2 separate regions of the Homo sapiens genome follow, and region 2 is linked to region 1. The links come from fine-mapping of genetic effects on gene expression. A gene starts in region 1. The other region holds a variant in brackets. All regions are shown on one strand. Distances are between the middles of the regions.

Region 1 (14,880 bases):
GCCAGAACAGTTTGTCTAAACTCTACACGTGGGTGTCACTGCAAGTATCTGCAGGAAAGTCTAGTGTTTTAACCAAGGACACGCGGTTTTATGTTCAACTGTTTTCACCGGGGGCGGGGGGTGGGGGGGCGTTCTGTACCTAGTTAATTCTGTTTACATAATTCGAGAGTGCAGTGTTTGTTTTCTGACTGTTTCTAGGTATTTCCCAGGATCCTGAAGGTCCTCCTTATTCACTTTCCTGTTTATTATTCTGAGGCACCCGTGAAGCAAGAAATCTGGGCACATTCCTCAGTAGGGCCTGTTTTCTCTCCCCCAATCCCAACACCTGCTGGATGTCCTGCCACAGACAACACCACTGCCAGTCAGTACTCACTGAACTCTGCGAGGTCCCACATGCCACACACATCACACACTCGCCTGTGTGCATACTTACTTGCCCCTCACATGAGTCCACACTCAGACTCATGCACACACCCTACATCACATGCACGCACATGAACACACACTCAGTCCCTGCCCCACAACCCTGCCTCCTGTGGGGCCTACGCCAGCCGCCCTCCTACCTGTAGTAGTGGCTGTCGACAGGCACCTCGCTGGGGAAGCCCAGCATCCCGCACACCACCCTGCTGTTGTTCATGGTCCAGCCCTGGTCACACACCTGCCGCCAGTGGCCCTCATACTTCACCTCCACGGCTCCCTCGGTCACTGGGCTATGCTGCTTGGCACTGGCAAGGATGGGCTTGAGCCGCACCTCCTCCAGCCGCCGGCCCTGCGGGGTGCACAGTCACCTGTGGGCCTCGGGGCTCCTGCTCCTCCAGTGGAGCCTGCTGCAGATCTTCATGCAGAAAGGCTGGGGCTTGGAGCTTTTCGAGACCATCCCACCCAGCCCGGTCATTGAACAGGCCAGGAAACTGAGGCCCAGAGAAGGGGAGGCATTATCAAAGGCCACAGAGTAAGTGCAAGGCAGAACCTCAGCTTGTCTAAGCCCTTTCCCTCAGTTCCTCGAATTTGTCAAATTGGAGAGAACTAGGCAGATCTGGCCCCCGCTGGGATCAGGATGGGAGCCCTTGGAGTTTGGGAGGCTTTTGCTGGGCATGGAAGGGCCTTCTCTGTACCACCCTGAGAGAGCTGAGATGGGCATAGACCAGCTGCTTGAGACCACAGCAGGATCCTATGGCCCACAAGAACCCCCAACCCTAGCCCTGGGATGACTTAGACCAGTACAGAGTCCCCATCACAACACGCTGCATTCAGTGGCCATGGCCAGCTGTCCTGAGGCTGGAGGCTGCCTGGCAGCAGAGCCCTGCCCTGCCCGCTCCTGTTGTTTGGCTTGGGCTGTTTTTAGCTCAGGGTTGTTTGTGCTGGGAAGAGGCAGCAATTGTGGCCAGGCCTCATGGATGAGGGAGCCCCTTACCCAATGCTGTCTCCCTTACGGGAGCAGCTTCTGCGATTCCCAGTGGGGTCAGCTCTGGTCCTCTGGCCTGCCTTGCCTCAGGCTGGGGCCCTCTATTTATGCACCTGCTGCAGGGCACACTCAGGAGTCGGCGGCCTGGGGACGATGCTCAGTGCAGACTGCACCCTTTCCCCTCGCTTATCCTCTAGGCCCGTCTTCTGGGAGGCTCTCTGTTCTCTGACCCAGCCCTTGGCTCAGACCAGAGCCTGAACAGCCTCCTCACCTGGGGCCCAAGGGCATTGGAGACAGTTTCAGAAAGGTAGCCACGATGGCGCCGGGGGTGGCATATCACCCCTACGTCTTCTGAGTGACTGCAGTCACTGACTCCCCAGCCATTAGACCCGCACTGGTCCAAGGAGCTCTCTGTGCCCACACAGCGCACATTGTCCAGCCAGATGGGTCCTGTGGAGTGGAGGTGATGCTCAAAGATGGCACAGAGAGGCAGGTCACAGGCTCTGCCTCCTGCATAGGACCCCACACTTACCAAGTCACCTCTTCCAAACCCTGGGAGAAAGTGGCAGGGAGGAGGAAGTTTGGGTCTCCTGGGGAATAAGTATTTATAACCCTGCCTGCTACCTCCTTTGGGTGCTGGCTCTTAGAGAATCTGTTTTTGGAAAATGCCGGGTAGCTCTAGGAATCAGACCTACCTGTTTGCCCATTTTTTCATTCAACATTCTCTAAGCACCCACTGTGTGCCAATTGCTATGTTCAAGGAACTTAGAGTTTAGTGGTGGTGACGGCGGTGGCCTTATTACAAGAGAGAATGGGAGGGTGGGAGTAGGGGCCATGTGCAGCTGAGGCACTCAGGAAATGCCGTGTGGAGGAGGTCACATGAGCAGGGTATTAAAGGATGGGTGGGTGTCAGTGAGCCCAGCCCAAGAAGACTGTTACCATCTCCTTGCCATCCCACTAGGTGGCACCAGTCACTCACCCTCCCCTTGGCCGTACTTGGCACTGTGGGCCCAGGTCAAGGCAGCTTCGAAGCCCAGCTGGCGGCAAGCCACTGTGGCCTCCTGGATAGCAAAGTTGTCATCACACACGGTGCCCCACTGGCCCTGGTGCAGCACCTCCAGGCGGCCCTCCTCTGGCTTGCTCTCTGGGCCCACCAGCCGGAGCTTAGTGGTGCCCAGTGACTGTGGCCTGCTGGGAGGGGGCTGGCCTAGCAGCAGCAGGAACAGAAAGAGGGTGGCTGGTGGGGACCACGCCATGGTGACTTCAAGGACAGCTGAGGCCAAGATACCTGAGGAATGAGTAAACATGACAGTGATCACCACCTCTACCCAGATCTCAGACCTCTGCAGCAATTTGGCAGCTCCTGGCAAGACAAAGGAAAGAAAACCCCCCTCAAATGTGTGTGTGTGTGCACGCGCACACACACACACAGTGGCATTAATTGAGTCTGGGCCAGGTTAGCTGATTTGGTTCAAATCCACCACATTCGCCATGACCTTGAGGAAGTTTAAACTTAACCTCACTGAGTCTCAGTCTCCTCATCTGTAAAATGGGGATAGTAATCTCCATCTCACGGTGTTGTTGAGTGTTAAATAAAACACCGTATGGAAAGTGCTTAGCAAAGTCCTAGCATTGGTGAGTACACAATAAACAGCAGCTCTTATACACCTAAAATCTTATGTGTAGGCAGACGAGGTGGTCCACCATTTGAGTCACGGGGATGCCCCCAGGGTGCCCTCAGGTCAAGACTATCTACCCCAGGGACACTGCCACCACCTTCTGATGTTCCTAGCACCCTAATCAAATGTGTGAAGTGCCGCCTTCACCTAGAAGGCACATGGAAGGCTGGAGCAGAAAGGGCTATTAGATGGGCATCAAGGACTCCACCACTCATTGGCTGCATGGCTTGGGCAAGTCTCTTCAACTCTCTAGGTCCTGACTCTTTCTTTCTTTTTTCTTTCTTTCTTTCTTTTTTTTTTTTTTTTCGAGACAGAGTCTCTCTCTGTCGCCCAGGCTGGACTGCAGTGCTGCAATCTCAGCTCACTGCAACCTCCGCCTCCCAGGTTTAAGCAATTCTCTGCCTCATCCTCCTGAGTAGCTGGGATTACAGGCGCCCACCACCACGCCCAGCTAATTTTTTTGTATCTGTAGTAGAGACGGGGTTTCACCATCTTGGCCACACTGGTCTTGAACTCCTGACCTCGTGATCCATCCGCCTTGGCCTCCCAAAGTGCTGGGATTACAGGTGTGAGCCACTGTGCCCGGCCCTGACTCTTTATTTCTAAAGTGAGGAGATGGAACCACATATCATCTGGATCCCTCCTGCAGCTTGGATACCCTGTGATAGCCTCACATCCATCTAGGCGTATGATTCATGTAGATTCAATACACATTTTTGGAATACTTGCTTCAGGCCAGGTGCTGGGACACAGAAATTAAGACATCGAACACCCTCCCTACCTTCATGAAGCTCAAGCAAGAAGAATTAGGGAAGCCTTTCAAAGAAGGGACACTTAACCTGAGCCTTATTGGGCAAATAAGATTCTCCTGGGTGAGAAAAGGGGCATTCGAGATACAGAGAAGAGGATTAGGAAAGAGGGAAAGAGGTGAGTTTGTGCAAGAGCAGGAAGTGCCCTTCTCTTACCCCCAGACCACAGTGTGGGGGTTTGGAGGGGAAAGAGATGGAGGGACGAGCTGGGGCCAATGATCAAGGGCCATGTGTACTACACAGAGGGTTTGCCTTCATCCTGTAGGAAGCGAGGGGCCAGGGGAGGGTTTCAGGCGGTAAACAGAGAGGGCCCCTGTCTCCAGGAGGCTGTAATCAGACGTTCTTTGGGTCCTTAGAGAGGGGATGAGGCTGGGGGCAGGTCCTCTCCCCCTCACACAGCAGCCTTGGTCCCGGGACCAGCAGGTGGAGAAGGGCATAGAGGAGAGAGTCTCAGCTGGTTAGAGCTGTCAGAGACCTCTGGAGCCACCGAAGCTGAAGCTCCTCCACCCCAAGGCTCTGCTGCCGATGGAAGCTAAGGCCGACCTGGAACAGGGGATGGAGAAGATGGGCTAAGAAAGCTCGTTCTGATGAGACCTGCCTCTTCCACGGCCATGGCTCCTCTTGGGGAATCATGCAGCTCATCCGCTTGAGTGGGGAGGCTCTCACAGGCCCCTGCCACTCTCACTTCCATGGATGGCATCTGCCCTACTCCCTCTCAACGGCCTTGGCCAGCAGGGCTGGGTGGAGTGGGCTCCTAAAAGTGCACTAAACAAGTTCTGGGAATGAAGCTCCATGGGAGTGGGGATGTGTTGTGTCCCCAGTTCCCAAAATAGTGTCAGGTGTGTAGGTGGCACTCATTCATATCTGTGGTTGCATGGATGGGAGGTGGCAGCACAGTGCTTGAGAGCACAGGCTGGGCGGTCAGACTGCTGGGGTTCGAATCCTGCCTCCACCAGTTCATTTGGAAGTGATCTTGGGCCAGCGATTTAGTTTCTCCCTGCCTCAGTGTCTCCCTCTGTAAAGTGGGGATAATAATAGTAACTACCTCATAGGATTTTTGTAAAGATTAAGTGAAGAAACATTAAATCCTTAGAAGAGCAAGCCTTCAGTAACAATGAACTATTATTATTATTATTATTATTATTATTATTATTATTATTATTATTTTTGAGACAGATTTTTGCTCTTGTCACCCAGGCTGGAGTGCAATGGCACAAACTCGACTCACTGCAACCTCCGCCTCCAGGGTTCAAGTGATTATCTTGCCTTAGCCTCCCAAGTAGCTGGGATTACAGGCATGCGCCAACATGCCCAGCTAATTTATCTGTATTTTTAGTAGAGACAGGGTTTCACCACATCAGTTCTTGAACTCCTGACCTCAGGTGATCCACCCGCCTTGGCCTCCCAAAGTGACGGGATTACCAGCGTGAGCCACTACATCGGCCAACAATGAACTATTATTAACAGCTACTGTGACAGCGACGATAGAACCGTTGGTCTAGATTGGTCCCACCTCCTCTCTGTACAAAGAAGGAAATGGAGGCCACGTCCGATCTCAACTGCAAGTCCTTGGTACTCCTCTTTGCAGCCTTCTCTAGATTTGCCCCTTTTCCCTCCACCCACACTGCAGAGCCTAGATGCTCCCCTCTCCACTCCCTGAGGCTGTGCAGGGGCTGCCTTCCCATTCTCACCTCTGCAGCTCTCCCCCTCTGACCCCTCCCACGCTTCCTTTCCAGACTGAAACACTGTCTTCTGCATGTCACTCAGAGGCTTGTGGGGGCTCCCAGCTGGCTGTCCCATGAGCAGAGTGCTCTCCATTGTTTCCCATTCCCTCCTCCGTGCTCCCTGGAGTAGGAGGTAGACAGCCAGGGACTGAGCCAAACCACTCCCCAGATGGCAAGAAAGGATGGGACAGATCGGCCTCAGGTCCCTCAGCTATTAGGACCCAGTGGTCACATGGGTCTGGGCTGAGTGACAACCACACCTTCTCTACCACCCCCAGGAGTTGGAATGCTTCTATCTCTGCCGCCAAATTGTGTCTGGAGTCAAATATTTTCCTTTCTCTGAGTCTCAGCTGAAAAACCTGTAAAATGAGGGGGTGGCACTAGACAGCCCCCCTATCCGACATGCTCTGATGGGGCCCAGGGTAGGCTGGGCAGGTCTGCTGTTTGGCTCCTGGCTGAAGTCCCTGACACACTGAGGAGGTCTTGTTACAGGCTGTGGACAGTCCCAGGCCAGCAGCTCCTTCCTCTCCAAGGGACCAACCTGAGGGCATGGGAGGGCTTCTGCTGTAGGACCCTGGGGTCTGGGCCAGGGAAGCTCCCTTCCATGAACGCTGCTGGAAGGTGGGGGGACGGCAGCGGGAACCAAGAGTTAGATGCAGGGAGAGTCCCTCTTATTGGCCTTCCTGCCCACTATAGGCCCCCGAGAGCTTTTGCTCACACCAGACTATAGCCTTCGTCTCCCAGCCTCCAAGCCTTTGCTCTCACTGTTCCTTTCCCTCTATCTAAGACTGTTAAACTCCTACACATCCCACAAGGCCAGCTCAAATGCCACCCCCTCCATTAAGCCCTCCCACAAAGCCTTCCACAAAGCACATTGTGTGTTTGCTTCCTGACCCCACAACCAGACTCCACCTGTCTGTTCCCCTAGCACTGAGCACAGAGGACCAAGCTGTGCATCCTCCCTCAGAGAAGGAAGCGGCCTCGAAAGTGGCCGTTACTTTCCCAAATAAAGGAGAAGGGGACAGAAGAGGGAAGGAAGGTGGAAGGGAAAGAGGAGGGGAGGGAAGTGAGGATAATAACTATACATTTTAAAATACGGATTAAATACTTATCTCCATTTTACAGATGAGAAGGTAAGGTCCAGGGAAGTCAAGTAACTTGCCCAGCCAGGATTCAAACCCAAGCAGCCTGGCTAGACGCCGGACTCTCAAAACCACCAAGAATGGATGTTGGAAGAGGGGGAGGAGGAAAGGAAGGCCGGGAGCCGACTGAAATTCCACCCTGTTCTGGTGGATTTATGACCCAGGCCGTGGTGTGAGGGCACTGGGCAGGGTGCTCTTCGCTGAATGCCGAGTGACAGATCCAAGATCTTGCCAGCTTGAGGCACAGAGGCACCTGCTCCAGGTGTGCCAGGAGATGCTGGGACCTGGCCTGACCTAGCGCAGGTAGGGAGGGCTGAAGACAGCAAATGCCCGAGTATTCAAGAGAGAGCATGGGGGGTGCTGTCCTGAGGGTGCAGCAACTTTAGGATGGCTCATCCCTTCTCTGCCGTTGGGCAGCTCTTCTCAGCAGCCTCCTCTCAGCCCTGTAGCCTCCCCGGGGTTACTGACTCTGTGGACCTGAAGCAGTGCCAACAAATGGTCTCTGAGCTGTACCTGTCCAGGCTAGGAAAGAGGGGGCTTGAAGTCTTCTGCCCCCTTCCCTTCGGTGTTTCTGTCACACGCCGACCCCCCAACATAATCAGCTCCGGTCTGGATAGTTGGAGAGCCCAGATCAGCCCTGGTTCGTTGTCCCCCAAGTCGTAAGTGTGACATCTGAACCCGCCTTGCCCCTTCCCTGTCTCCTCCCTGGAAGAAGGCAGAGCAATGGTTACACACGGCGTGTACACAAACAAGACACGCAGGCACCCCTGAGGCCTGGGCGCACCACTCAGGGCGGGCCTTGGGCCAAGCTCCCCAGCGTGGTCACTTGTCCAGTTGGAAGCAGGTTGGTGAGCGACTGGAGGGCCGGGCTGAGGGTCCAAGGGATCCCCCATGCACCCTAGGCCCAGTCTCCAGGAACCCTCAGAGGCCTGCAGACTCACAGAGAGACAGAAGGACAGATGGGACAGCAAGAGGCAGACCAAGAGGCAGACGCGCGGCCAGGCGGGGGCTCACCAGATGGAGCGCGGACAGTCCGGGGCTGGGCGGGCGCCGCGGCGGAGCAGCGCTAACGGGCTCCCTCCCCGGGCGCCCTGGGGCCTTTTTATCCGCCTCCCGCCCGCGGCCCCCCAGCCCCGAGCTGGCCGCGGAGGAGGCCCCGCAGGCCCCGCCCCGGGCGGGCCTGGAGTCCGCGGGCGCCCCGCCCGGCCTTCCGCGCGGCGCCCCCCGTCGGGACACAGGCCAGGTGGCGGGGGCGCCCAGCCGCAGCCGGCGGGGCCGGGAAGTCCCGGGGGGCGGGGGGAGCGGGGGGGCGGCGGGGGGTCGCGGGGAGCGGAGCTCTCGGGAAAGGGCGGCGCTGGGCCCGCGGCTGTTTTGCAGGGAGGGCCGCGGCGGCCTCGGGAGTCCCTCTCCCAGGCAGTTTCCTCTTTTGCAGAACAAGGTAATGACGCCCACCTAGAGTCCCAGTCTGTGAGTCCTGGTGGGTGCCAGGGCCCCCGGCACAGCACCCTTCGCACGGGAGCGCCCGGCTGTCACAGGGGCCGAATCTCACGAGCTCGGTCACTTAGGACAATGTAGACGCCCTTTCTGGGAGGCCGGGGCTCAGTTCAGAGAGGTCGAGGTGGCGCGGTGCAGCGGTGCTCTCCTGCAGGAACAGGCGAGTCACCCAGAGTTTACTGAATACCGCCCCCCCCCCCCCCCCCGCCCTCCGTGTGAAACTCTGCGCTGCCCATTGTGCAGCTGGGAACACTGAGCCCCAGGCGACATAACTTGCTCCTCCAGGCAATACACAGTGAATGGGAGAACCCCTTCACAGAGCTGAATGATGCAGTCCTGGCCCTTGTCAGACTCACGGGAGGAGGGTGTTAGTGCAGGGAGCAGGGACTGTAGAATTAAAGAAATGTGGACATGGCTGACAGAGAGGAGTCCCATCAGCTGAACTGAGCACCTAGGTGCCTGAACCCCAGTCCAAGCCCCCAGTTTCTTTCCCCTAGACCTGGTCCTGCCCTTAGCCTCACTGGCCCCATCTGTAAAATGGGCAGAGGGTTCCAGCCTCCCGGTTTCCTCCCTAGGCCCACAGCTGCCCAACCTGGTTCCCCCTCTTGCCCCCACCTTGCCTAAACGTCCTTCCAAAGGTTCATTCATCCCACAAGCCTTTATTGATTTTCTCCTACATGCTAGACAGGGTGCTGGAGTGCTAGACGCTGGAGGGGGCCTTCCCAGTCTGGTGGGGGAGGCAGATGTGCAAGTAAGAATAAGCCTGGACAGGCAGAGTGTGATAGAGCTAGGATGTCAAGATGGACCTTTTCGATCCTGGGTGACAGCCAGGTCTTAATGACCCTGCTGCCAGGGACCTGCCATCCACTCCTGGCTGCCCGTGTCCAAGATGTCCCCCCAGTGCCCCTGCCCCACCCCAGCTGGGCCCAAAACATTCCCCATGATGAATCAGCAGGAAAGAATGCTCCCAGCCTCGGGTCAGTGGCAGCAGCCCAGCTCCTCCCCCAGGGACAATGAGGCAGCTGTGGGCTTGGGTGCCAGGTATGCCTAAGCCCTCTCCTAGGGCCCAGCCACCTCTCATGCTGAGCCAGAAGCAACACAGAGGGTTCGGAAACGTGGGCTCTGCCTGCTGCCAATCACTCACCAGGCCTGGCTGCCCAGAACTAAAAATACCCTGGAGCGCAGGGGCGGGCGGAGGATAGAGACCAGGGAATGAATGGATGTTGCCCGGAAGTCCTTTAATTTGCACAACTCTGGGCAGAGGCCAAGGCTGGGAAGCAGTGGAAGTGGGGATCTCTAAGGCATGCGCTGTGAGCCCCCAACCCTGAGAAGTGAGGGGCTCTGGTCCCAGCCCCAGCCCATGGCGTACTAACAGTGGGATTTTCTCGGCTGAGTTGTCATCTCCTCATCCTTAAATGTGATTGCTGTAGGGGTCAGATGGGACCACTGGATTCATCTCAATCAGCTTTCATTTGATTGAGAAAGCCCTCTTCTTCCCTCCTGCCTGGCTATGTTCACCCGGCCTCAGCCCAGCGCCTGTGACCCTCTCCATACTCTTTATATAATGGTCTGTGTCTGCCTTAACTCTGGACACCCCCACCCACCCCCGAGCTTCTTATTTATCTCTAAACCCAGATCCTGTCACAGAGCTTGACACATAGCAAGTGCTCCAGAAGTGCTCACGGATTGAATAAATGGACCTAGCGGTGCGTGCCAGTTTCTGGTCCCCAAGGTGATACAGACAAGCCAGAGGTGCTTCCTATCTTGTCCTCAAGGAATTTGCAGAGTGGTGGGGGAGACAGAGCCACAATCAACCAGCAGGACAAGGCATCATCACCATTATCATCATCATGGCTGGCTGGGGTCGAAAAACCGGTGGACAATGCTTTCATCATCTCCTGTTTACACAATGAAACTGGGACACAAAGGGGTTAAGTGACTTGGCCAACATCACACAGCTGTTATCTGCAGATGGGAGCAAGTGATCAATGACGGCGAAAGCACAGGGCTGTGTGGATGCTGGGCAGGGAAGTCTGAGGGTTGAAGCCTTCCCAGAAGTGCCTTGGAAGGTGGATCTGATACACTGGGTAGAGAGGGGGGAAAGTGGAGTGGTCAGGAATAACACTTTACGATGTTGTGGAAGCCGTGAAGCACCATGCAGGTGTCTGGAGTTACCGCAGCTCCCCTGATCCCTCAGCCAGTACCCAGGGACTTGGATGTGTAAGCATCACCTCTCCCTGCCTCCTCCCAGGGAAAGGAGCTAACATGAATCTCTTCCCCATGGGGTGCTTCTCAACCCTCCCTTCCTGCCTAAGTCAGGGTCTGTACTTTCCTCCCAAGTGGGAAGGCCAGAATCTCCTGCAGAAAGCGGTGGCCTCCAGGGTGCACCTGGTTGAACCCAGTAGTGACCCTGGTGGAGTGCCCAGTGCCCATGCCTGCTGGCAAACTTCCTCCTCAGCAGCCTTCAGGACTCAGTTCTAGCCTCATCTCCTCTGTGACTCAGTATGGAGGAAACTGTACAGCTTTAAAACTGGGCAACCTGAGTTCTAGCTCTGCTTCTGAATTGTGTGGCCTCGGGTAAGTTATTTTGCTGTGCCTAAGGTACTGCCTCCTGCATCTATTTGTCCTGCCGTTGCATTCCTGCCTCCTCTAACACTCAGTGCTGTGGCAACAGCCCCCAAACTGCTCTCAGTTTTTCCCTGCATCTCACTGTTCCTGACGTCAGTCTTTCTAAAGTGTTGTCTTGCTCTAGCTCAAGAATCTTTAATTGCTCACTACTGCCCACAGGAGAGAAGGAATCTCCAGTTGCCTCTACTCACTTCATTTTCCATATTCTACCTACCCTTCAGGCCTAACTCCGATTCCAACTCCTCCGTGATATCTCCCATGAAAACTTGCATGAATGCTCTCAAAGTAGAAGGTGCTGGAAGAGTCACAGAGCCAAACCAGACACAGTGTTTGCCCTCAAGGAGCTCACTGTCTAGTGAGAGAGATGACTCAAAGACATAGCTTGATGGAACGTAGATTGTAATAACAGAAAGTAGGACAAATGGGGAGAACAAGCCATTTTGGCCAAGGACAGGCTCCTCCTTTGTTGAGAGCTGTTTATCCAGAAACAGGGCTTTTGTTCAGGGAGAGGATGGGAGCTGAGAGGGTTTTGTAAGATCATGAAGTTGGGGAAGTGGGGAGGGTGGATCTAGGAAGCCTGGAGGGGCTAGTCAAGGATACGGTTTCTAGGGAGAAAGGAGAGATGAGCTGGTTGCAGTAAGGAGAGGAAATTTGGCGGAAGAGCAGAGCTGGTTAAAAAGAAATTCTAGGAAGTTTGGGTTTGTGATAGGCAAAGTCACCCTCTCCCCTGTTCTGTGAAAGCTTCAGAAACCCCGCATAAGTCAATCAAGTTTGGAGCTGGACAGGCCCACCCCAGCATTTGCAGGGCCCAGGGCAAGACTCAAGGGAGGCCTTATGCCATGAGTCAAGTATTTTAAAGCCATCAACCAAATGAATCCATTGTTAAGTCAATCATGGTCTAGCCTCCCACCTTGACAAATATACCTTTGGAAAGACCTGGAAGGTCAGGTTTGCATTCACAACTTTCCACTCCTCGGAGTTCTGTATGGAACACGCTATGACAAGAGTGTCTGCCTCTGGCCTTGCACCCTGGTGTGTCCGTCCGCACCATATTCTGCCCATCCCACACAGCAAGGGGCCTTCTGCTGTGACAGACATGCAACACCGTCGGCTCTGTGCAGACCTCCCACAGACAGCTGTCCTGTGGCTGCCCCATGCCTGGGTGCACACTCTGGCACAGGCACAGGCTGCACTCAAGAGGAAGGTCTAGAAGTGGGCTCTGGCCTCCTGGGCAAAGAATTCCAAGAGCATGGGTTTGAAAATCGAGTGGAAGTTCCTCCTTGCCCTGTGACGGGGGGTGGGGCGTGGAGGGAGTGTAATTGACAAGGGCCACGGTGATGCCCTCTGTAGCAGGAGGACCAGAGCAGGGACCCTTGCCCAGGTCTAAGGGCAGCATGGAAGTGGGATTGTGTGTATGTGTGTATGGGGCGGGGAGAGGATGTGACGTGAAGGTGGGAATGTGGCTCAGAGGTGGGCCCTGGGGGAGAGTGAGGGGGCTACTCAGTCACTGAGCCTCCTTAGGGTCACACACAATGCTCCATGGCTGAAAGAGAGGAGAGGATGCCCCCAGTGCGGCGAGTGGGCGAGGCGGGAGAGGAAGGCAGAGGCATTTGGTCTGGGCTCAGGTCGAAGATGCTGGCAGGGAGAGGGTTGAAGGGGGAGCAGCCCAGCCAGGTTACCTTTAGAGAGCTGCGAGCCACCTGAGCAAGGGCCTTAGCTTGGCAGGTAGGAGGGGCCGCTGCAGCTTTCCGAAAGGGTTGGGGTAGGAGTGGGATTTGGTTAGAGTTGGGCTACAGGAATCTTAATCTTGCCAGGTACTGTCCTGAGCTGGTTTAACGCTTCACAGTCATAACTTTTTGTAGGAGGTGGGGGGGACAGGAACTGATAAGGGTGTTGGGGTGAGGGGACAGGAAGGAGTTTAATAAGCTCTAAGCTACTGAAAGGCAGAGAATAGGACTCAGATTCCCCACTTCCACCTCCAGGAATGCCAGCACAAATGCCCTGAATTCCCAGAGAAGTTTGGACTTTGTAAGATCAATCGCTCAACACACATTTCTTCCCCAGAGTCTCTTCCTGCCCCTCAGGAAGACACATGATGTCACCCCATTTCTCATATGTAACTCCTCCTTGCCTGGGGAAGCTCAGTGTCCTGGCTTTCCTCTCCCCCTCCTCCTCCTCCTCTTCCTCTCTCCTCTCAGGACCTCTTCCTGCCCTGCTGCCTTCCCCACCTTCTCCCCTCTCCGTCCTGGCCACACACCCTTTCTAAACTCACCTCCAACCACTCTCCAGTTCTCTTAAGAATATATCTCCCCCTGCCAATTTCCCTCTTCCCCCTGCACCCCCAGTGCCACCTGCAGAACCCCGCTTTCCCTGTCTCAGCAGCTGGACACAGGCGCAGCGCCTGGATGTGCTTCTATTCAGGTAAATTAAAGTCATAAGTTCTGGGGGGAAATGAGGCGGAATGAAGACTCAGTGCCACAGCCACACAGCCCCGGAGGTCCCTTCGGGAGCTCATGCAAGTCTGCACCAACCTTCTCACTTGCCAGTAATTGAACCCCTTTTTCCTTAAGCAACACCAGACAAGTTAAATTAAAAGACATTTCTTATTCTATGCTGTTTTCCTGGGTCCTTTAAAGCCACTGGTGTAGTAACTGTGTTGCATCTCCCATGGTGGATGAGGTCAACAGGCCTTAGTGGGCTAGCCTGGGAACTTCCCAGGCTACAATGTTCTCTTCGCAGGAGAACAATGTTCTTCCTAGCCCAGGGTTTTGCTTCTTCTTGGCCCCTTTGGGAAGATCACTGACTATTTGAGGGCATAGCCAAACTGAATGCTTAAGTGTTAGGAGCCACTCCCAACCCTAAATCCACTATTTGTGAATTATGTCTGGAATTAATTGATATTCCATGGGAAATAATTTCAGGAACAGAGGTATTGATTAAAGAGAGGTACACGTGAACTTAACACAGATATCTTCAGTCTTGTATCATCTTAGTTTTTCTTTTCTTTTTCTTTTTCTTTTTTTTTTTTTTTTTTTTTTAGATGAAGTCTTGCTCTGTCACCCAGGCTGGAGTGCGGTGGTGTGATCTTGGCTTACTGCAAACTTCCCCTCCCAGGTTCAAGCGATTCTCCTGCTGCAGCCTCCTTGGGTAGCTGGGATTACAGGTCTATGCCACTGTGTCCGGCTAATTTTTGTATTATTAGTAGAGATGGGTTTTCACCATGTTGGCCAGGCTGGTCTTGAACTCCTGATATCAAGTGATCTGCCCTCCTCGACCTCCCAAAGTGCTGGGATTACAGGTGTGAGCCACTATGCCTGACCCGGTCTTGTATTATCTTGCATTTTGGTTTGTTGATGTAGAGCTTTGTAAACATTTCAAAGACTCTTTGTTAGGAATTGGTTTTATCTACCAGCCAGAATGTATGATCATTCAAGACTGGGACTGACAGATTCCAAAGGTTAATTTTCATGTAACCAGCTCATCTTTAGCTTCCAGGAACCGCGAAGGGATAGACAAGAGCTGTCCTGGTGGGGAATTCCCTTGACCTGACTTGGAGGGGCAGAGAGGCAGGGGACCTGACACAGAGGTCAAGGGAGATCCCTGGATCAAGCAGGACCTAAGCCAAGACCAGAGCCAGAGAGCCAGGAGCGAGATGTAGAGCCATTGGCATCAAAGTGTTATCAAAGTCCAAGCAAGAAGTCAGGACTGAGGGTGGAAAGGAGAAGGACAAGCCCTGTCAGAAGCCAGGGCTCAGTCTGATGAACCTGTTCAGATGCCACCAGACAGAGCAGGAGGGCAGCAGAGCAACCCCCACTTCTAGTCCAGCGGCTCTTTGAGTGTGGTTCTGGATCAGCACCATCAGCATGGCCCAGGACTGTGTTTGAAACGCCAATTCTTAGGCCCCACTGCAGAGCCACTGAATCAGAAACCTGGTGGCGATGGGGCCCAGCATCTGTGTTCTAACACATCCTCCAGATAATTCTAATGCCTGCTATCATC
Region 2 (14,880 bases), 83 kb after region 1:
CTATAAGACCAGGGGGCTCATAGTCACTGTGGGGATTTAACAAGGGAACTAGTATTTGTGAAAACACTGTAAACTGGGAAATGTAAATGCAAATAGAAGGCAAATTTGCAACATTTGGAAACATCTCCTATCCTTAAATAATTTTTTGTAAGTCTTCCTCTGCTTTCTCATTCCTCTTGAAGGTTTATTCCCAGGAACCTGGGGTCTTCAAGCTTGATGGGACCTTGGGGTTCACTTGGTTCATCCCTGTCATGTCACAGACAAGGAAATAGGCTCAGAGGGCTAATGAAAGTCATCCAGGGCTAATTAAAGAGCACATCAGGCTGGGCGTGGTGGCTCACACCTATAATCCCAGCACTTTGGGAGGCTGAGGTGGGAGGATCACCCAAAGTCAGGAGTTCGAGACCAGCCTGGCCAACATGGTGAAACCCTGTCTCTACTTAAAATATAAAAAGTAGCCAGGCATGGTGGTGCATGCCTGTAATCCCAGCTACTTGGGAGGCTGAGGTAGGAGAATTGTTTGAACATGGGGAGGCAGAGGATACAGTAAGCTGAGATCATACCACTGTACTCCAGCCTGGGTGACAGAGCAAGACTCCATCTCAAAAAAAAAAAAAAAAAAAAAGAAAAGGAAAGAAAAGAACACATCAAAGGCCATCCCCACCAATCACAGCTTCGCTGGCTTGGATCCCTAGTTTACATTTTTACTTTGCTTTTGACTCCCTGGTTTTCATTTTACTTCCACCCCACATGTCATTTTAAGGACAACTCATGCTGCTCACTATAGACCAATATGGTCTAACTATTGAGTGCATGGTGGGAATGCTCATTCAGTTGGCCCCAGGCCCTAATAATAATAATAATTACCACAGCTCAGAGCCTTGAATCTGCTACTGGGACCAGGCTACTTGGAAAAGATGACCTTCTGCAGGGTCCAGATCCAGCTGGTGAAGGTGGGAGGGAAGAAGATGAAAAGCCTCTGCTCCCCTCTGTCATGCCGCTTCATCTTACCTTCCCTTGCAAAGTTAAAGTCTGCTTCGAGTCTATTTGGTTCCTTGTAGAGAGCCTGCTTCCCACTATGCCTCTGTCTTACCTGGTGTCTTTGGCAGAGCCCCGAACCATCTCAGTGTCAAATCCCGGGGCTCCCCTATTTGGCCCTGGTCTAGGTAACTGAACAGTCCCTGCAAACACGAGGGATTGATGTATGTCCAATGCAGGTATGTCATGAAAAGGTTCCACAGCAGAGTGACTAAGGAACCAATTAGGAGATGAATAAAACATGTCCTATGTAGGTTATTCAAGAAAAGACTAATAATGAGAAATCCGAAGAAAGACGGGTGCATTCATTTTGGGATCGTCCCTTCTTGAGCAAGTAGAAGGAAGGCCTGAGAGTCAGTCCTTCAAGGGCACAGCAGCCAGGGGAGGTGCTGAGTGATGGAGGCAGAAACATTTTTTGCCCCTCATTTAGCTGACTTCCAAACACTGCCTCCTCCTCCTCCTCTGTGGTTGGGAGATTTCACATTTTGCTTGTCCCAAAGCCCCAGGACCCGCTGACCCAGCATGGTTGTTTCCTTCAGCTGTTGCTATGACCTGACCCCAAATCCTGGCTATTGACTGAGTGGCCACTTGACTTCGCCAGATGTCTCACTCTGCACTTCCTGATGTGGAAATCTACCCCCTATCCAGAGTAGGGCCTCTGGATGCTGGCCAGCCTCTTCCTGGCTCCCTGCATCAACGTCCTCCCTACAAAGGCTGAGATGCAAGATCTGTTTTCCAAACCACCAAAGTCATCACATAAATGTGTGAATGCATACATTTGCCAAAAAACCGGCAGATAATACTACTAATGACTAAACCAGAGCTGGCTTGGGAAATGAGGGTAAGTCATCAGCAAACTCGTCAATGAGTGGCAGTGAGGCGCTGTAGAGAGCAGCTGGTGTCAGAGGCTATGAGTTCCTGCACCCTCACTGGCTGCATTGCTACTAAAATAAGTCTCAGTTTCCTCATTTGCAAAGTGGGCTTAATAATCAGAATAATGCTTATCCTGTTTACTTTACAAGGTTCTTGCTAGGATCAGAGCCCTATGAACTTTTTTTTTTTAGAAAGCTATACTTGCATACAAGACTATTCGTTTCATAATTAGCAAAGTGCCTTGCTGAAAATAAGTGCTCACTAGGCATTAGAACTGTAGTCTGATTGTGAAAGAAAACATTATTATTTCATGGCATTTCCTACCTGACTTTCTTCTTTGTTTGCCCGTCTTCCCTGCCTCCCCCATTAGACTGTAAACCCTCTGAAATCAGGAACTCTGTCCATCTTGCTCAGAGCTATGTTCCTTGTGCCTTGAGGGGTACTGGAACAAAGAAAATGTCATTAAGTGGTTTTTGAGGGGATGAATGGTGGCCTTATGGCTCAGAAGGAAGCAATGTAGGGAACAGTTAAAATGAGCTTAATTCTGGGGAATGCAAGCTTTTTCTTTTTCTTTTCTTTCTTTCTTCTTTCTTTAAGACAGAGTTTCACTCTTGTCACCCAGGCTGGAGTGCAGTGGTGCAATCTTGGCTCACTGCAATCTCTGCCTCCCGGATTCAAGTGATTCTCCTACCTCAGCCTCCATGCCCAGCTAATTTTTGTATTTTTAGTAGAGATGGGGTTTCACCTTGTTGGCCAGGATGGTCTCAATCTCTTGACCTCGTGATCCACCTGCCTCGGCCTCCCAAAGTGCTGGGATTACAGGCGTGAGCCACTGCGCCCAGCCTGCAAGCTTTTTTAATGAGAATTTGCTGCTGGTGTAAAATGAAATATATCTTAGAAAGTAACCAGGTCCTCTTGGAGATCAAAATATGGAAGGAAACACCAAGTGTGAAGATCAGATAAGAGATCTGTGGATATTGCCAGGTGCAGTGGCTCACACCTGTAATCCCAACACTTTGGGAGGCTGAGGCGGGTGGATCACGAGGTCAGGAGTTTGAGATCAGCCTGATCAACATGGTGAAACCCCATCTCTACTAAAAATACAAAAATTAGCTGTGCACCTGTAACCCAGCCACTCAGGAGGCTGAGGCAGGAAAACTGCTTGAACCCAGGAGGCAGAGGTTGTAGTGAGCCAAGATTGCACTAGTGCATTCCAGCCTGGGTGACAGAGTGAGACTCCACCTCAAAACAAACAAACAAAAAGAGATCTGTGAATATTGAGTAGGACAAGATTTGTTCTGTCTTCTAAAAAGCTGACTCCATTTTTATTGCCCCAGAAAGTAGAACCAGGACCTACAGAGAGATGGCGTTTGTTTTGGTTAAAGACACTTGAGAATAGAATGGGCTGGCTCAGGAGGTGGTGAGTTTCTAGACAGAGGAGAAATTCAAGAAGAGGCTGGATGAATTTGTGGCACTAATGTTGTAGGTAAACTGAGGAACTATGTTATTAAATGAGATATAATAGGGCCTCCATGGCCACAATTTATTCTAATCTGCAGGGTTCCAGAGGCAAAGTCCAAAATAAGTTAATGAATTAACTAATTAATTAATTAAAGGGAAAGGGGGAGGAAAGGGAAGAGGGAAGGGAAAAGAGGAATGATCTGGGATCTCTGCCATTTCCCTTCCTTGAGAATTCTTTTCATCCTCAACTCACACCCCTTGATAAGGAACATCAGACACCACCCTCACCCATCTCAGAACAACTCATGACTTGCATCCTCCTTCTCCAGCCAGACTATACCTCTCACTGGTACACATGGCCTCGGCTCCCATCGCCCCGTCTTCAGCCAGGCATTCTCTCTTGGTGTAAGGAAGACCACTGTTTACTCCATGCTGAACTGACCCTGGAGGTTCTTTGTTCAGGACCTCCACATACCATGTGGAACAGGAACTGGCAGCCCCCTTTTACAGGCCGAATGTTTGTGTCCCTCAACACCCCCAAATTCACATTGTTGGAAATAAGAGCTCAGAGTTGCAAAGAAAATGAGCACTCAAATAAAGGATATCTCAGCAAGGCAAACTTACTTCTGCAGAAGGGTGCTGCTCGTTCTTCTGGTCACTGCAAGAGCACACCGAACAAAGGAGGGAAGGGGTTTTTATCCCTAATGCAGTCAGTCCCTACTACTGTGTCCGGTCTCCATTGGCTGGGGTCGCACCATACCATCTAAGCTGATCCCGACTGGCTACTTCAAAATTGAGCAGGGGTGGGGGCTACAGTGGAGGGAAGAGCAGTTTCTGAACTAAGGGTGCCAAATAAGGAACAGATGTGGGTTGTTACAGATTGGGAACAGATGTGGGTTACAGACTGGGAACGGATATGGGTTACAGATTGGGAATGGGTGTGGGTTACAGATTGGGAATGGGTGTGGGTTACAGATTGGGAATGGACGTGGGTTACAGATTGGGAATGGCTGGAAGGTTGTTTACCATAACTGGGGGCAAGGAGGCAAGGAAGTTAGGCTTTGAAAATAGAGGACAAGCTGAACCTTTGAAGAGGAACTCACTGTTTCCAACAATATGTTGAAGCCCTAAACTCAGTGTGGCTGTACTTTGAGATAGGGCCCTTAAGGAAGTAATTAAGGTTAAAAAAGGTCACAAGGGTGCAGGCCTGACTTGATAGGATTAGTGTCCTTACAAGAAGAGACACCAGGATGCGCTTCTGTTGTCTCTCTCCTCTCTCTGCCACAGAGAAAAGGCCATGTGAGGGCATGGCAAGAATGCGGCTGTCCACAAGACAGGGAGAGAGCCCTCCCTAGAAACCAAATGGACCGACACCTAAATCTTGGACTTCAAGCTCCCAGAACTGTGAGAAAATTAATTTCTGCCATTTAAGCTGCTTGGTCTGTGGTATTTTGTTATAACAGCCTGAGCTGACTAAGACACTCCCTTGGTAAAAAAAATTTCAAGGAGGAAGCATGATTTGGATGCTCATTCTGCCACTTACAAGCTGAGGGGCCTTGGGCAAGTTATTTTTCTCTCTGAGCCTCATTGTGGTCATTGGTAAAATGTGGATCATAACACCTATTGCAAAAGGCTATTATGAGGATCAAGTGAAAAATCTGCATGTGGGTATCTGGGGCACAGTAAAACACTTAGAAAAAGTTAGATTTAAAGGAAGATACCTGCATCTTGAAACTAGAACATTTTGAGAGACAGGACTAGCTGGATTTCCTAGGCCGACTAAGAATCCCTAAGCCTAGCTGGGAAGGTGACCACTTCCACCTTTAAACATGGGGCTTGCAACTTAGCTCACACCTGACCAATCAGATAGTAAGGGGAGCTCACTAAAATGCTAATTAGGCAAAAACAGGAGGTAAAGAAATAGCCAATCATCTGTTGCCTGGGAGCACAGCAGGAGGGACAATGATCAGGATATAAACCCAGGTATTCGAGCCAGCAATGGCAACCCCCTTTGGGTCCCCTCCCTTTGTATGGGAGCTCTGTTTTCACTCTATTTCACTCTATTAAATCTTGCAACTGCACTCTTCTGTGTTTGTTATGGCTTGAGCTGAGCTTTCGCTCACAGTCCACCACTGCTGTTTGCCACAGTCACAGACCCGCTGCTCACTTCAATCCCTCCAGATCCCGCAGGGTGTCCGCTGTGCTCCTGATCCAGCGAGGCACCCATTGCCACTCCCGATCGTGCTAAAGGCTTGCCATTTTTCCTGCATGGCTAAGGGCCTGGGTTCATCCTAATCGAGCTGAACACTAGTCACTGGGTTCTACAGTTCTCTTCCATGACCCACAGCTTCCAATAGAGCTATAACACTCACCGCATGGCCCAAGATTCCATTCCTTGGAATCCGTGAGGCCAAGACCCCCAGGTCAGAGAACACGAGGCTTGCCACCATCTTGGAAGCGGCTCACCACCATCTTGGGAGCTCTGTGAGCAAGGAACCCCAGTAACAATTTCTCGGTGTGATCACCTGATAAAACAACAGCAGCCTGCCCCCTTCGAGGCTGCCTCCTCTGGACAGTGGCCTTGAAGTCCCCATTTGCTTATCAGTTACCTTTTGGGTTGGCATAAGAGTGTTCGTCTCTCAGCAATACCAGCCTCTCCCGTGTCTCCAGGATTCACATCCCAGAGCTTCTTGTGCTTTTCTCCACGGAATTTTGGGATCACAGCTAAAAGAATCAACCAGTCTGTTGGAACATTTAAGTTTTCCTGCCCTCCTGGTATCTGCAGACGTAGGTAACAATTCCATGTGCAAAACTTTCAAGTAATGATGAATCCGCTGGGGCCATAACTCACACCCTGAGGCCACCCCGGAAGGATGGCTGGAGGTACCCCACTGAGGAGTCATCCCGCCCACTAGTACCACGAGTCACGCCCTCTCATTAGATCAAATCAGAGGCAGGGAGAGATTTACAGCTTATCTCAAAACATCTGGACCGGCAATGTCGATTCCAGACCAACAGCAGGAGAGGGTACTTGGGGACCACATTACAAGCCTTGCTTCTGAAGAGCAGCTGCCCTGAATGTTCACCTCGAACACTTCTCAGCACGCTGCCTCCTCAGAGTGTGCACATCTGGATTTGAAACTAAAAGCAAGAACTATGCATTTTTCTTGCTGTTGAAATATGGCTCCCTGGGGACCCAGCAGGTCGGGCCAACACAGACACTTCCTGCATCCTGACCTCAGACAAGCCCACATTCTCTAGGATAACTGAAGGGAACGCTTCCAAGTCTGCAAGCTGCCGTCAACTAAGATCTCAGGCATCCTCACTTCGTGCCGAGAGGAGGCTCTTAAACATCACTGCCTGGGCTGAGCTTAGGGGAGGAGGAAGTAGAAAATGTGATTAACATG[T/C]AACCATAAAATGTTGCAGCCATAAAAAAAGAGAGAAGTTATGCGTAAGTTATGGCTGCGTGAATGGCCACATCAAGCCATTTCCAAAAGCCCATCTCACTAAACAGCAGTTATCTTGCTCCTCAAGTGGAAACCGCTTTGAGACATTTCAAAATTAGTGATTTTCTGCCAGCAGCTACACTGACTGCACCAGAGATCCTGACCACAGTCCTTGCTAGAGTCTCAAACAGACTTGCATTTGACTTTTTCTATTTTTTATTTTTTTTGAGACAGAGTCTCACTCTGTCACCCAGGCTGGAGTGCAGTGGTGTGATCTCAGTTCACTGAATCCTCTGTCTCCTGGGTTCAAGCGATTCTCCTGCCTCAGCCTCCTGAGTAGCTGGGACTACAGGCACCTGTCACCATGCCCAGGTAATTTTTGTATTTTTAGTAGAGGCCGGGTTTCACCATGTTGGCCAGGCTGGTCTCAAACTTCTGACCTCAAATGACCCACCCACCTCGCCCTCCCAAAGTGCTGGGATTACAAGTGTGAGCCACTGCACCAGGCCAAACAGACTTGCATTTGACTTTCAAAAAATATGTTGCAGCTGGGCACGGTGGCTCACGCCTGTAATCCTAGCACTTTGGGAGGCCGAGGTGGGAGGATCACAAGGTAAAGAGACTGAGACCATCCTGGTCAACATGGTGAAACCCCGTCTCTACTAAAAATACAAAAATTAGCCAGGTGTGGCAGGCGTCTGTAATCCCAGCTTATTTGGGAGGCTGAGGCAGGAGAATCGCTTGAACCTGGGAGGCGGGAAGGGAGCCCCTTCCAGAGCACACCTGCTGAGTGCTTTGGTTCCCTTCCAACTCTCATGCTATATGGCTCTTACGCTCACCCATCTGCTGTTTCAGCCCCTGACTCACAACTCTGATTAATCCTGCCCTTTTTTGCTATCCTGGAGAAAACGTGCTTCTTGCTTGATCTTGTTCCTTACAAATTCATTCTCTTGTTTAGGGTCGATGCTCCTTAATGATGCTGTTGTTCCATTGTCTGCCACAAACCACTTTCCACTCTAAAGGTTTGTCAACATGAACCCGTTTGTTGATGAAATCAGACAAGACAGATGTGAGGATGATATTCTTCTCAAGGTGTCCAGTCCAGCTTGATACCCGACAGATCTAGACTAAAAGCATCCTCCTGACCCACGTGCAGAGACAGTACATGATGCTTGGCTGTGTAATGGAGACACCAAGACACCAGCTTGAGTCCTCTGCTCTTATTACCCATGAGAATGTGGGTGAGAAACATGACCACCTTGAGCCTCAGTCTTCTGATGTGTGAAATGAAGATAATTGGAGACCCTATTTTCTAGGGTGTTTTAGGAAGAAACAAAATCATGCTTAGCATGGTAGCTGGAATACCTTTAGGGTCCAATAAAAGGAATAGCTATACTCCTGGTAGTGATGAGATAGTTCTGTATCTTGAGTGCAGTGATGATTACACAAATGTACACATGTGAGGAAATGGCATAGAGCTACACACACACTGACCTGGTGTCAAATTCCTGGTTCAGATTTTGTGTGATAGTTATTCCCGTAACCACTGGGCAACTTCCTATCATTATTTCAAGATTAAAAAGAAAAGAAAAGAAAAAAAAAAAGACCAGGAAGGTAAAAAAGGAGATGGGGTGGGAATAGCTGTGGTGGGATTAGTACTGTTTGGAGACTTCATTTCCTTCCCTGCTCTGCTGTGTGACTGCCGAGCGCTGGCTGCAGACCCTGCTGCACTTTCACGGCTGCCCTGGTCTCCAGGTTCATTACTATCTCTCAGACTCACAGCATCAGCCTTCACCCTGGCTCTGCTGGAGACTGCCTCAGAGCTACAGTCCCCTGGTAACTCACTGGTGTATCACTGCCCCAGGCAGCTCCACCACCCCTGCCCCACCCCAGCAAGACCCCAGGCAGCTCCACCACCCCTGCCCCACCCCAGCAAGACCCCAGGCAGCTCCACCACCCCTGCCCCACCCCAGCAAGACCCCAGGCAGCTCCACCACCCCTGCCCCACCCCCAGTAAGACACATGCAGGCTATGCAGGGGGAATCTCGTGCTGAAGGGCGACCTCGCTACGTGAGCAGGGCTCTCCACAGTCCCACATGCCTGGCCCTGGAGGGAAGCCGAGGATAATGGGTTTTGCTGGTGGCCATAGGGTGTGGACTGTGGGGATGTGCCAAGCTTGTGAGCATGAGCTCAGGCGAAAGTCCTGTCTTGAAAGATGTGATGGCTCGAGCTACGGAATTCTGTTCCAGCAAGGATGAGAAAACATTCTGTGTCTGTCCAAACCAAGAAGGAAAGCAACAAGTATGGAGGGTTTTAAACTTTGACAAGTTCCAGAGGCTCAGTGATAAGAACCAGGGAGAGATTCCAGGGGGTAGAGGCAATCAAGGGAAATGTCTGAGCCCAGGAAGAAGAGGGGAGGTGAATGGCAGGACCCGGTTACCAAGGATGTTCGTGTCTGAGTTAGACCATGGAAGAGACCTCCGTGTGAACCTGATAGGTAGTATTTTAAAATGTTCATAAAGGAAAAGTAGATCCTATCTGTGGCAGATTGTAAAATGCAGGTGCTGTTGCAGTCTGCGGAGAAGACGCCTCAGGATTTTGATCAGGTTGGAGTATTGGGGGAGCGTCACTTACACCAGCTGCCAGAGGACCTCTGATCCGAGATGGGAACTTTGGTTGCAGATGAGCATATGGAGAGGCTCTAACTCCTTTCTTTCCTCGTTTGTCTTCCATAAAGAAGAGAAGACCTGAAGCCCAGGATCCTAGGAATAAGAAGAGCAGATACCATCTTTCCTTCGCAGGAATAACAAACAGGCAGCCCAAATCCTACCCTTCCAATTTTGGTGAGCATGTGGAGAAACAGACACACTTCCAGACATGATGGTGGGGGTGTGCATGGACAATGCTTTTGGGGAATTCAGTTTGGAAGATCCACACATGTCTACAACTGGGTCTTTGTGGAAGAGTGTGTCTTGCATATCTCAGGCTTTTGCTGGTAAAGATCAATGAAATGAAAGGAGTGGGCGCTTCTGAACTGCAGGCACCTGCTGCATGCTCCTTCCAATGCCTCTCACCAGTGGGAAACCTCAGGAGTCTGTCTCTGAATTTGTTTCCCTTGCTGTGAAATAGGGATGGCAAGAATAAAATCTCTTTCTGGGGTGGCTGGGAGGTTCACTTGGAACAGTGAACAGGCCTTGAACATTGAACCACACCTCTGGAATGCTACTGAATGTTGCTGTTGTGATATGTGAAGAGGCAGAAGTTTTGGTGTCTGGGAGCATTTTCCTGGGAGAGGGAAGGGGTAAGGAGGCGAGGGAGGTGGGTCATCTACAATCATCCCTTTACCCAGCTGGCTGGAATTGCTGTATAGGAATTAAAATCAACAAAGGAAGTCATTGTGAAAATACGCATAGACGTGAGCTCTGGACAGAACAGGTTCAGGAAACGGAGGAGATCCCCAGGAAGTCTTCCAAGCACAAAGAGGAGGAAATGGAAAGTATGAAAGTACGGATGCAGGAACCTGTGATTAAAGCAGAAATGAAAGAATGAATAAGGGAACTATAGTTCTGCAAACAAGAAAGGGAGGAGGAGGGAATAAGACCAGCTCTCTTTGCAAGTCCTTCCTTCATCAAGCCATAGGAAGGAGGGAGCGGATGGCACAGGAGCTCTGAAGAACAAAACACGGCAAGTCACAACCAAATCACTATTGAGATAATGAGGGTTAATAAGAGCAATTTCCAGATCTGTCAGCAAACGTGGGTGTGACTAAGACTGGTACACAATTTGGGGGTCCCTGTAAGATGCTACTGCTGGAAGGGGAAATGGGGATTTTAAAGCAGAAACATTGCCCAGGGACACAGAAGCCCTGGAAGGGGACTACTGCTTCCAGAATGGTTAAGTTCATTGAAGAATTTTCCACTAGCAATTGACTCATCATTCATAGAGGGAGAGACCTGGAGACAGAGCAAAGGCTGGCCACGCTGGCAGTGGTAGGTATGACCCTACACTCACCTGCTGGGGTCAGCTTCCCTGTCTGCATCCCTTACAGCTGGGAAATCCAGTTCCCCTGTCCATACCATCTTATATCTGCAAGGACTTTAATTGGACACCAGGGCTGGTGTTTGAACGGCATTACTGTTAGTGGAGGGAGCTGACGGAATGACTCAAGGCACAAGTATATCATCTGAAGAAGACTAGAGCCTCATTGCCTTAAAAGAATCAGCAACAAGTGAAAAGTGACAGTGGCTGACCACGTGTCCTTGGACAAGGTACTTATCTGCTCTGAGTGTACTTGCTGAGTCTGTTTCAACTATACAATGGAAATGACACGACCTCCTGCAGAGGATGATAAAGACCACCTTAGAGAGCAGGTGAAGTGGCCAGAGTTACACCCTAGTACTGCCCTCAAGAAACATTTTCCTTTCCCTTGCAGTGAGGGAAGCCAAGGTGCCTGGATGAGCAGATAGAATCTTTGTTTGCGGTTGTCCAGGCTGTCCCTACCATCATCATTTAGATGTCGATGCAAGCTCAAAGAAAGCATGTCTGAGCTTTATCCCTTTATTCCTCTCTCATCTTGTCAAGCCCAAGGATGCCTTTTAAAAAATAGGAAAGGCCACACCATTTAAAAGAAAGGCCAAGTGCCAGGCAAGAGCCCTGGTGAGTGCTGGGGTGCAGGGAGAGCTTTGCAGACCCTGGGACTCACCTTCAGGCCTTGCACCGACTCTGTCTGTTCCTGACAAGCCCTATGCACTCTCCTCTGGCTCCTGGTGGCTTCTTTCCTGGTTCCAGCCACTCCATTTGTCCTGGACTTCACCTTGGCCCATCTGTTCTGGTTGGGCTTCCCTTTCTGAATTCTTTTCCCTGTTTTTGCAGCCCAGAAGCCTGAGCTGCCTCCTGGATGTCCAAAGTCTTTCATCTTGCCTCGGGCTAGCAGACCGCACTAATTGACACTGAGGGGTGAATGAGACTTAATTAGGGAATGTTTCCAGCCCAGAAGTACAGAAGGGGTGAGGAAAGGAGAGGTCATGGGTGGAGTGCGGTGAGGGGATATGGGCAGCACCTGTCTTCAGTGTGATTTGCCCAAGAGCATCGCCTAACCCCACCCCAAACATTCTCCAGTGCTGTCAAGAGAGAGAATAAAAAACACCAAATGCAGGAGTCAAATGTCCCCCCACCTTTGGCAGCTTCTGCCTTTTAGGTGAGGTCAAGGATAGAGTCCCCACATGTGAGGCTGTGTCAGTCACCAACCAGAGATTCCACTTCCACCTCCACAACTTCCAGGGCACAGACTCCTCATCTGACAAATATGACCAAAGACCTAGCTATGGTGAGCTCAGCATTTTGTTCTCCTGCTCTGACATATCAGTAATATTGGTATTTGAGCTGTGAGATCCCATTAGCTCTCCTCAGACCCTGAGGCTTTAAATTTCCCATTGAATTCATTTTAACCCACATTAATTGGGTGTGTACAAAGCTCTGGGCTCAGCACAGTAAAGAAAATGGTGAATTGGCCCCACAGGGAGATCATGATGTAACAGAAGCAAACTGCGATCTCTGGCTTTCACTATAGGGTGGGATACATGGGGGCTAGAGGGCAAGAGGGCTGGAAGAATTTATTCCTGGGTTGGGGTCAGGGCAGTGGGTGTGTGGCTGGCTGGAAGGAAAGTGAGATTTGGCATGGGCCTTAGGAAAGCATCTTCAGACCGAGGGAACCTCATGAGTAGAGGCATGGAGGAGCAGGTGTGACAGAGCCTATGATAGGGAGTTGGGGAGAGCCTGGATAGGTCAGCCCAGGCCACAGAGGGAATTGGTTAACACATGAACCTAAAGGCCAGAAGTCTAAGAGACATCAGGGTCTGTAACTGCTCAAATTATATGCAATTATCTGAGTGCAAATGTATTTTTTAAGAGGAGAGTCTACATACTCCTTCAGGGTCACAATGAGATCCAGAGCCATCAATGCTGATATAGGCCATGGGGGACCTATTGGAATATTGTTTTTCATTTAAAAAGTTATTTATTATAAAGATTTTCAAACATACCAAAAGTAGAGGTAATAATATAATGAACTCAATGTCCCACCTTCAACAATGATCAATTTGTGGCTGGTCTTGTTTCACTTGCACCTTCACCTCTTCCCACAACCTCAGGCTTGATTTGATGCTAATCTTAAAGAAAATATTCAATATGTTTCTGGATTAAAATATAAGGATTTTTTTTAAAAAACACACAACCACAATACCATTAAGTCATCTAAAATGTTTAACAATATTTCCTTAATATCATCAAATATTCAGTCAGGTGTTCACATCTCCCTAAATGTCTATTGACTTTTTTTTTAAACAGTTTGTTAATTTGATTTAGGGTCCATATAGAGTTCATACCTTGCTTTCTTTAAGTCTCCTTCAACCCGTAGAGTCCCTTTCCATCTATTTTTTCTGTCATTTGTCCTGTAGAGTTTCCTGCAGTCTGGATTTTGTGAGCTGCATCTCATGATGTCATTTAACATGTGCTTCTATCTGTGTGCTTCCTATAAACTGGAAGTTTGAGCTACAGATGTCATTATATTCAGGTTTGATTTTTTTTTCAATACAACTTCAAGAGGTTCATAATGCCTGGTTGTCCCTCTTGTTTCCATCACAGTGACTTTTTTTTTTTTTTTTTTTGAAATGGAGTCTCACTCTGTCACCCAGGCTGGAGTGCAGTGGCGCGATCTCGGCTCACTGCAACCTCAGCCTCCTGGGTTCAAGTGATTCTCCTGCCTTAGCCTCCCGAGTAGCTGGGACTACAAGCACCTGCCACCACGCCCAGCTAATTTTTTGTATTTTTAGTACAGATGGGGTTTCACCATTTTAGCCAGGATGGTCTCAATCTCCTGACATTGTGATCTGCCCACTTTGGCCTCCCAAAATGCTGGGATTACAGGTGTGAGCCACCACAGTGATTTTAAGCTTGGGAGATGTATTAGTCCATTCTTACGCAGCTATGAAGAAGTACCCAAGACTGGGTAATTTATAAAGAAAAGAGGTTTAATTGACTCACAGTTCCACATGGCTGGGGAGGCCTCAGGCAACTTACAATCATGGGGGAAAGCACCTCTTCACTGGGCAGCAGGAGAGAGATAGGTGCAAGCAGGGAAAATGCCAGATGCTTATAAAACCATCAGATCTTGTGAGGCTCACTTACTATAATGAGAACAGCATGGGGGAAACCGCCCCCATGATTCAATTATCTCCCCTGGTCCTGCCCTTGACATGTGAGGATTATTACAATTCAAGGTGAGATTTGGGTGGGGACACAGAGCCAAATCATATCAGGAGAGAAGTGTAGGCATTTCAGAAAGGTCAGTCAATGGTGTGGGGGTCTGAGCAGAGGCAGGGACCAGAGGCAGGAAGACCAGCTGGGAAGCTGCTGCAGTGGTCTAAGCGAGCTGCCACCTTCCAGCCGCACGAATGAGCCTGTATAAATGAGGGGTGCCTGTGTGCTTGCATGTGTAGAAGGCCCCCTGGAGCTGCAGGCAGCACTCTGGCACTAGATGCTTGTTTCTGTGACCTGGGGAACTTGACAGCCACATGAGGACCATCAAGTGGCTAAATACAGCAAAATAAATGAGGCACTTTTACTAATGTATTTGCTTTTTCTCTATCTGCCTGAAGCTTTGCTAGGTGAATTAGGTTTCCAATGTGTTGCCCCTCCCTAGAACCATGAAATCCCCAGGGGATGGGAAGTGAATGGAAATGACTGGAGCACAAGGCGAACCCCTGGCCTGTGTGGTTTCTTCTGCATGTTGTAAAGGAGAAAAACGGCAGCTGTATTTTAATGGGAAATGCTTAAACAGTGAAAAAGCCCCAGATTGCAAAACCTTACCCTCCCCAAGAGGTACAAGAAATTTAATGTTTGAAAATGGTTTTACATTTCTTTGAGGACCAAAACTATTCCTCTTGTTTCTAATGCCCATGAGCTAGTCTCTGACTCTCCTTGAAATTTCAGAGGGGTGGGCAGTGCGGAGAAAGAGAGAGATGTATTATATTTCCTTTTGAAATGGGTACACATAAAAGTGTCC

Which allele goes with the higher level. Positions count from the first base shown, and alleles are read on the strand shown. Sizes are in standard deviations (SD) of each study's normalised expression.
For the expression in fibroblasts of the gene that starts at base 7,836 in region 1, C is the high allele of the variant in region 2 and T is the other (moderate effect, 0.64 SD a copy in GTEx).

Evidence for each region.
Region 2: its variant is fine-mapped to the expression of LOXL4 in fibroblasts (GTEx, PIP above 0.99).

Annotation. Positions count from the first base shown.
Region 1 is chr10:98,260,359-98,275,238 of GRCh38, forward strand. LOXL4 (lysyl oxidase like 4) reads right to left here and starts at 7,836. Exons shown (of 15, transcript NM_032211.7): 1 at 7,774-7,836; 2 at 2,385-2,693; 3 at 1,677-1,855; 4 at 564-769. The coding sequence starts at 2,661. LOC124902489 (a long non-coding RNA gene) reads left to right here and starts at 8,084. Exons shown (of 2, transcript XR_007062260.1): 1 at 8,084-10,830; 2 at 13,922-14,880. RefSeq lists enhancers at 1,126-2,015, 6,782-7,283, 7,284-7,783.
Region 2 is chr10:98,343,056-98,357,935 of GRCh38, forward strand. No RefSeq gene overlaps it. Among named protein-coding and RNA genes, the nearest start is that of MIR1287, 45 kb to the right of the region's middle. RefSeq lists an enhancer at 10,859-11,363. The variant T/C (reference allele first, on the strand shown) is at 6,780.